2 linked regions of the Homo sapiens genome follow. The protein of the gene in region 1 purifies or fractionates together with the protein of each later gene. This does not show direct contact. Each region holds a gene or a part of one and is shown on either strand. Other genes may lie near its edges. The genes, in order: SHISA2 and EPHX1.

The links.
Region 2: the proteins of SHISA2 (region 1) and EPHX1 purify together in Homo sapiens (affinity purification with mass spectrometry; one large-scale study listed by BioGRID and IntAct). This does not show direct contact.

The regions. Positions count from the first base shown.
Region 1 is NC_000013.11:26,049,117-26,053,403, reverse strand, and holds the start of SHISA2 (protein shisa-2 homolog precursor), read left to right. Parts: upstream 1-1,387; 5' UTR 1,388-2,428; coding exon 2,429-2,762; intron 2,763-4,287. UniProt on the Homo sapiens protein: Plays an essential role in the maturation of presomitic mesoderm cells by individual attenuation of both FGF and WNT signaling.
Region 2 is NC_000001.11:225,816,508-225,820,310, forward strand, and holds part of EPHX1 (epoxide hydrolase 1), read left to right. Parts: intron 1-3,803. UniProt on the Homo sapiens protein: Biotransformation enzyme that catalyzes the hydrolysis of arene and aliphatic epoxides to less reactive and more water soluble dihydrodiols by the trans addition of water.

The sequences.
Region 1 (4,287 bases):
CCATGCTGTCTGGCTTCTTGATGAGTCCCAGTACCCAGCACAGAGCACAGTACACTGTAAGTGCATGGCGTGTATTTCTTGAATGAATGATTTCTTGACATTGAAATTTTTTTTAGCTTACTAGCTTAAGACATTTGGTGAATAGTGCATTTAAAGTATATAATTTTGTGTAGCTTAAAACGATACACAACCAAAAAACTGCAAGAAAACAAAGTGCAATGCTTGGAGAGAGGTTTAGTGAAAAGAATAAGGTGTGTGTTGGGGAGCAGGGACATAGGGTAGGGTTTTTTTTCTTGGATTTGACATTGTTGGGGCAAGTGGAAGAATAATCAACAATGTCTGAATCTTCACATTAACCAGGCATACACAAGCATCCAATGGCTGCTTGAACCTGAGTGTCTTTGCTGTGAATAAAACTGCCTGTGTTCTGAAGTCATGGACTTGAAAGGGACCTTAGTGATCGTCACATCCTATGCTCCACTTTATAGATGAAGAAACTGAGACCAGAAAAACGCAGTGATTCCCTGCTAGTAGGGCTGGGTCTAGAATTCAGGTCTGCTGACTCCCAGACGGTGTGGGAAGGGGCATTCGTTCCTTTAAAAATAAGCACTGCTGCTTTAATAACATCAGCACCTGTTGTTCCAGCTTCTGCAAGAGAGAAGCTATTAATTTCTCCTTCATCAAAGCTGAATTTCTGGTCTGTCTGAACCTTGTTTTCTTCCTGACTGCAGCTGTCTAAACCACTAAGGCCACATGTTGGACGGAGGCACTTTCCTGCTGGAATCCGATAAATCACCACACCCAAATATAGAAAGAAAAAGGGACACAGATCATCCACACCGTGGCCGAATGTGTGACATCTTTGCTGAACTCTCTCCGTTCCACCTTGTGGTGGAGGCCTCCAGTCCACCAAACACAGCCCTAGGCGTGTGAACCCTGCCACAAACATCGGTGCTCTTCCTGCACAGGGCCTGGGACCAACCGTGGCCAGGACATCAGCTGCTGGAAGCCGAGAGAGTTCATCTGAGTGGCGATTTTATGATCTGCAGAGTGGAAAGTAATCATAATCCCTTGAGAAGTTTGCAGAATCGAACCGAATGTTGAATGCCAAAGATCTTCACAAAGCAAGTTGAGTTTCTTCCGTTATTATTGTTATTTGTGTTAGCGAGGCCTGGATTGCTTAGGTTGGGTTTCCTCCCGCGCCTATTCCAGCAGGCAGACCCCGCCCTTGGCCACACCTTTCTCCTTGCCCGGGGTAGGAAAGTGAGGGGCTGCCCGGCGCCCGCGGGCGTCCCTGAGGTCGGGGGTGGGGGGGAGCCGCGCAGCGCGCATGCGCGCCGGGGAGCCGCCGGCCTCTATAAGAGCGCGGCTCAGCGCGGCAGCGAGCGGAGTCGGAGCTGGTCTGGCGCCGGGCGGGGCGAGGCGAGGCTGTGGGCGGCTGCTGCGCTCGGCTTCTCCCGTAGCCCGGAGGAAAGAAACTTCCGTGGGAGGCTTCCATCGGTGCGCACACCTCCCGAGGGCGAGGCAGCGACCGGGAGAGGGAGAGCCGGCCGGAGGCTGCCGGGCTCCTGTGGGACCGCGCTGCAGCCGGGGAGGCGGAGAAGGGGAACCGGGGCGAGCCGCCCGCCTGGATCCGCGCCCAGCAGCAGCCGCGGCCGCCGCCAGCTGGGCAGGCTCCCGGGACTGCGGCTGGGGGCGCGCAGGACCCTCGCCTGCGTCCTGGACGTTCCCGGGGTCAGGAGCGCTCCCTCGGCGACGTGCTGGGAAGATTGGCCGTCGGCCCCGCCGAGTGGAGCGTCGGGGCTGCACCCCCGTGGGCTGCCCGGGCGGCCCGGCCGGAGCCATGCGGACCAAGTTCGGGGCAGAGGAGGCTGAGCGCGGCCGGCTGCGTCACTTGCTGCCCAGAGCCTTGCGTGCACTGCCCGCCTTCGCCCCTTCTACCCGCCCGAGGAGGGAATAAAGGAGGGGAGACGGGCCCTGATTCGCGCGCGGGACCCTGAGGCTTAAACCCTGCGCAGAGCCCTGGCTCCAGGTCCGCGGCGGCGCGCCCAGCGGTCATTCGGCTCGAGTGAGCATCCCTTCGGGGATGCTCAGGGAGGGTCCGGTTGCCAGTGAAACCTCCAGAGGCTTCCGGACGACAGCCCCGGGGGCCTTCTGACTGCATCCCGAGATTTCCATCAGCGAGTGCAACTCATAAGGCAGTCCCTAAGGGGACCGGGCCACCGGCTGAGGACGGGGATGGCTTAGGAGCTCCTGGACCTAGGGCCCGGCGTCGTCGCCTCCTGGGCGTCGCGGCAGAGGGGAGTGGCCCGCGCGGAAAGCGCCGCGGGACAGTCAGTGACGAGGCCCGGGGGTCGCCGGGGCCACGACTTCTCGGAGACCGTCCTGCGCTCTCTGGAGACGCGCTGTCCGCGCCCAGGGTGGTGCCATGTGGGGCGCTCGCCGCTCGTCCGTCTCCTCATCCTGGAACGCCGCTTCGCTCCTGCAGCTGCTGCTGGCTGCGCTGCTGGCGGCGGGGGCGAGGGCCAGCGGCGAGTACTGCCACGGCTGGCTGGACGCGCAGGGCGTCTGGCGCATCGGCTTCCAGTGTCCCGAGCGCTTCGACGGCGGCGACGCCACCATCTGCTGCGGCAGCTGCGCGTTGCGCTACTGCTGCTCCAGCGCCGAGGCGCGCCTGGACCAGGGCGGCTGCGACAATGACCGCCAGCAGGGCGCTGGCGAGCCTGGCCGGGCGGACAAAGACGGCCCCGACGGCTCGGCAGGTAGGGCGGCCTGCGCCCAGCGCGAAAGGGAGGACGGTTGGCGTTGCCTGGACGTCAGGGACCTGGGAGTTTGAAGGGGGGAAATTCAGGAAAGGGCCTAGGACCAGGAGGCGGAGTCTGCCTTCTGGCTTATTATTTGGTCGGTGTGGGTCCCTAATTCACCCTCACGGGCCTCAGTTTCTCCATCTGTCAGCCAAAGGGTGGCTTAGAGTTAATTTTCCGAACAAAATCACACTCCTAAGGCAGTGTGGGCCACAGACAGCCCCCATATTCCTTCTGACCAGGGTCCTCCGGGCCCCTCTGGCGTCTCCTGTCTCCATAGGGCTTCATGTCTTAGGGGTACCCAAGGAGACGGCGAGGGTGCGCCCCCACCCGTGAGGGCCTGGCAGCGGTGCTCCCCTGAAGGCTCCCCGAAAGGAAGGCAGCTCCTCAGGGCTTTCCCGGGGCTGCTGCCCCGTGCCAGACGCCGCGGATTCCCATCTTCTCCACGCGGCGGCCCCTCTCCCCTGCAGCGGCCCGCCTGTGGGGCTTCTGGACTGTTTTCCTTACCACGTCAGACTTAGTAGGTGTAACATCGGAGCAGTGCCCAGCCTTGCTCTTTGTGGCTTTGATTTTTTTTTTCTTTCAAATTGCCAAAGCCAGAGTTGGAAAGTAAACCCGTGAAAGAATTTGGTAGGTTGCACTTCACTCTTCAGAAACCTTCCGGAATGCCTCCCTGGGGTGTCTACACCAGTCACTCCGTGTGTGTGTGTGTGTGTGTGTGTGTGTGTGTGTGTGTTATTTATTTCGGGGGAGGGGAGGTGTAGAGGTAAAATGGCAAACGTGTCCCCGAGGGGGCGGCTCCTCCTCTTTGTGGGCCCGTTGTGTTTACCTGGGAGGCTTTTCGCTAGCATCCTGAGCCTGGGTTCGGGCTGCTTGAGCTTTGGCACAGCGTAGTTTGTGTTTATAGAGCTGCCTCCCAGGACCTCGTGAGAGACAGCTCTTTTCAGTGCCGTTCCCTTTCGCAGTCAAGCATTTTATTAGCATGCTACTCCTATTGTTCTGCTGTCTTGAATCTGAAGAGAGCGTAATTCCAGAACCAGCGCAGTCTTAAAACGCAAGCTCAGTCTCGCAGACTGTGTGGCCATGGAAGAAAGCCCAGAGAAGGGAGCCAGACCCCGAACTGCTACAGTGAGATGTCTGCTAGATTGGGCTCATTAATGGTCTCCAAAAAGTTGGGATGGCTTTGGATTAGTCGGGACTTCTCAGGACGAGACTTCTCATGACGCCCTGTGTTGTGCATGGATGCCTTCTTCATGCTACTTTTAAACGTTTTTTTCCTAAAAATTGTATTTCTTTCACTTTTCTTCTGCAGTGAAGGGCAACATGCCTAATTAAGCCTGCCGGGGGGCTTATAGTAGCGTTACATTCCTTATCCCTGTGTAGTTATTTACATTTCCAATTAAAAATCCTGGAAAGAGAACACTTATTTCTCCCCAAAACTCATTATGTGGACTGAGGCTGGTTTCAGCTAGTTTCTGCTATG
Region 2 (3,803 bases), on another chromosome or scaffold:
ACCTCAAATGAAACTCCAGGCCAAGAGCTCATGAGCCCTGCAGCATGTGGGGCATCTCTCGGTCTTCTTGAGTTCTGTAACTTAAAGTTTGTGTGGCCTTTAAAGAGTGTGGAAGTAGCCGTCCCCTCTCCGAAGGTGCACAGGATTTGGCCAGCCCACCCGCGTGGCCTTCCCCTTCCCCTCTCCAGACCCTCCACAGCAGATGGGGCCACGGAGGCCTGGAGAAGTGGAGTCACTGACCTGAGGCTACATGGCTGGCAGGCAGCAGGGCCAGGCAGCAAAGCAGGCAGTGAGGGCCTAACTGCCCGCGGGCTGGCTCGGGGCTCCCTCAACCACATTGGCATCCCAGTGCCAATCCCAAATTGTTTTCTTTCTATCTCTCCAGACATGTAGATAGCATGGAGGTGGAGGGAATTCCCTCCCACACAGAGGGCGATATGCCCCAGAACAGCACTCCTGCCCCCAAGAAGGCTGTCTCCTGACACTTTTTACTGCTCTTTTACTCTCCCCCAGCTTTTTTTTTCCTGCTTGTAAACTGCATTTTTCCTTTCCCTTGGTTTCTGGCTCTAAGCTGTTTTCCCAGGGCTTGGCTCCGGCGCTTGCACAGAGATAAACACGGCCATTGGCCTGGTGCACAATCCCAGCTTGCCTGCATCCGGCCTCTTCCATCCTGAGTCTCCAGGGGTCCCTGGGGTTCAGGGACAATGGCTGAGGGAGAAGCTGGGAGTTCCCCCCAGGGTTTGCCTCCGTCACTCTTGGGCCAGCCAAGGGAGTGGGGCTGGGAGCTTCAGGATGGCTTTTGGGAAGCCCCTGGGAGCCCCAAGGCTTGGGTAGCTGCTGACAGGGAGTTCACAGCAGGAACGCTCCCAGGCTCCCATCCTGCGTCCGCTTGGCAGGCAGGCCAGGAATGGGAGGGAAGCCATCCGTTTTTCCCTTTCCACTGGATGTTCCCTTCGCCTTCCCCAGGGAGGAGTGATGAGGCTGGGGTGCTGGGGAGGGCAGTATGGGGGCAGGCTTGGGACCAGGCCTGCAGAAGCAGCAGACCCTCCAAGCCCACCTACCTCTCTGGCCTGGCATCTGAGGGGCAGGTCATGCCATAGTTTTTCCCTTACCCTCTCTGCCCCCACACTTTCCTCCCCAAAGTGGCAGACTTCCCCCAGGAGAAGCACTGGCTTTTCACGCTGCTGTGAGTCTCAGTCACTATTAGAGAAACACAGTCAGAGCCAGGCCTGCCCAACTGTCGCAGGGCTGGGTCCACCTCATGGCCTTTGTTCTGGAAAAATACTTGGGCATTCTGCCCTGCAATGCACTTAGCCAAGGCCGGGCACATGGCAAGTGCTGAGTCATGGCCGGCTAGCACTTTACTGCGATTTTAGGAGCACTTTCTTGTGGTGAGGTTCTGACTGCTTGCTTGGGTTGGGGGAGGGGAGTCTTTGGGCAGGCGGTAGACCTGCCCTTTACTTTGTGTGGCCGGATCTGAGTCTGACCCCATCTTTTTAGACCCAAAACCCTGATATTTGTAGTGCGCCTAGGATACTGGTTCTCCAGTCTTCTTTGGGGTCAGGGGGCGTTATAGTGCCTCATGCCACCTACTCAGCCCTCTTCCTGCATCTTATGGTCTGTCTCTACCAACTAGGCTAAGTAGGTTATATTTATTATTCCTCAAGGGGAATTCAGCTCTTCTTGTTCAAAAGTTCTGATTAATTTTCTATGCTCTCATTCAAAGAATTTTTAAATTCATTCATTCATTCAACAAATAATTAAGCTTCTACTAGAATGCCAGGCACTGAGAGTCCAGATGGGAGCCAAAGCAGACATGGTCAGTGGCCTACAGGAGCTTCCGTCCAGCTGTCAGTCACATAATCACCCTGACAAATGTGAGCTCGACGAAGGCTAGGACTGAGAGATCTGCCTTGCTGGGATAGGTCAGGAGAGGCTACCCAGAGGAGGGACAGTCAGTCTGAAATCTGAAAGGTGGATAGAAGTTAGGGAGGTGGGAAGGGGAGGGAATAGCTTTTCGACAGAGGGATTCGCCTTCATAAAGCCCCACAGTAAGACAGCATGGTGAGCACAAAACTGAAAGATCGGGGGGCAGCGTGAGATCCCAGCCCTAAAACTCTCACTTAGCTTTCAAGTAAACTGTTTCTCCATAATATTGATACCAGTAGCACTCTGAGGGGCTAGGGGAGTGGTGAGATCACACAGGCCTTGAAGGCCACACTAACCCAAGGACAATGGGAAGCTCTTTAAGGGTTTCGCAGGGGATGGGATATACATGATCAGATTTGCATTTCCAAAAGATCACTCTGGCCTGGCTCATGCCTGTAATCCAGCTATTTGGGAGGCTAAAGCAGGAGGATCACTTGAGCCCAGGAGTTTGAGACCAGCCTGGGCAATATAGTGAGAACCTGTCTCCATTAAAAAAAAAAAAAAAAAAAAGGTTTGTATGGTGGCTCACGCCTGTAATCCCAGCACTTTGGGAGGCGGAGGCGGGCGGATCACGAGGTCAGGAGATTGAGACCATCCTGGCCAATATGGTGAAACCCCATCTCTGCTAAAAATACAAAAAATTAGCCGGGCGTAGTGGCGGGCGCCTGTAGTCCCAGCTACTTGGGAGGCTGAGGCAGGAGAATGGCGTGAACCCGGGAGGCGGAGCTTGCAGTGAGCCGAGATTGCGCCACTGCACTCCAGCCTGGGCGACAGAGCGAGACTCCGTCTCAAAAAAAAAAAAAAAAAAAAATACAAAAATTATCTGGGCATGGTGGCATGCGCCTGTAGTCCCCGCTACTCAGGAGACTGAGGCAGGAGACTTGCTTGAACCAGGGCGGAGGTTGCAGTGAGCCGAGATCGTGCCACTGCACTCCAGCCTGGGGACAGAGAGAGACTCCATCTAAAAAAAAAAAAAATGTTTTAAAAAGATTGCTGTGGCTTCAGAGTGGCCATTGTGTTGGAAGGGGTAGAGCAGATGTGAGTGGACCGGGCAGGGTAGTAGTCCAGGGGAGAGCCACAGGAACCTGGGCTGGGTTGGAGATGGATTTGAGATGTACTTTGGAAGTTCAGCTGCCAGAACTTACTGATATCTGTGGCGGAGTGAAGGAGAGGGGTTTCAAGGACGTTGCCTGGGTTTTTGGCTTGGCAGTAGCAGGGCGGGTAATGTCAGTTACTGAGGGAGGGAACACCAAGAGAAGACAAAGTTTAGGGGGACAGGATCACAGTGCGATTTCAGATGCACTGGAGAAAATTTTGACACAAGGTACTGTCTGGGCCCCAGGTGGCTCTGCTCTAATACATTTATAACTCTTTGTCCGCACTTAATCACTCTGTCATACTTAGCTGCCAGGGGGCCAAGAAATGTCAAGTGTTTGGCTGGTCTTCTCCAACTAAAATTAAAAATCCTTTGCTAAGGAAGAAGGAGAGAACATTGCTAGCAGTCTGCCTCAACATCCCAATCTGATGGCGTATTTGCCGCAGCCACCAGCTCATCAAGGACAGCTGCGGTGAACCTTTGAGTTCTGAGTAATCTCCTGTCTGGGCCACCTTTCTTCACTCAACCACAAAATCCTCACATTCCCAAGTATATTTTCTTTCTTTCTTTTTTTTGTTTTTTTGAGACAGAGTCTTGCTGTGTTCCCCAGGCTGGAGTGCAGTGGTGTGATCTTGGCTCACTGCAACCTCCGCCTCCTGGGTTCAAGCAATTCTCCCTGCCTCAGCCTCCTGAGTAGCTGGGATTACAGGCATGCCCGGCTAATTTTTGTATTTTTAGTAGAGACGGAGTTTCACCATGTTGGCCAGGCTGGTCTTGA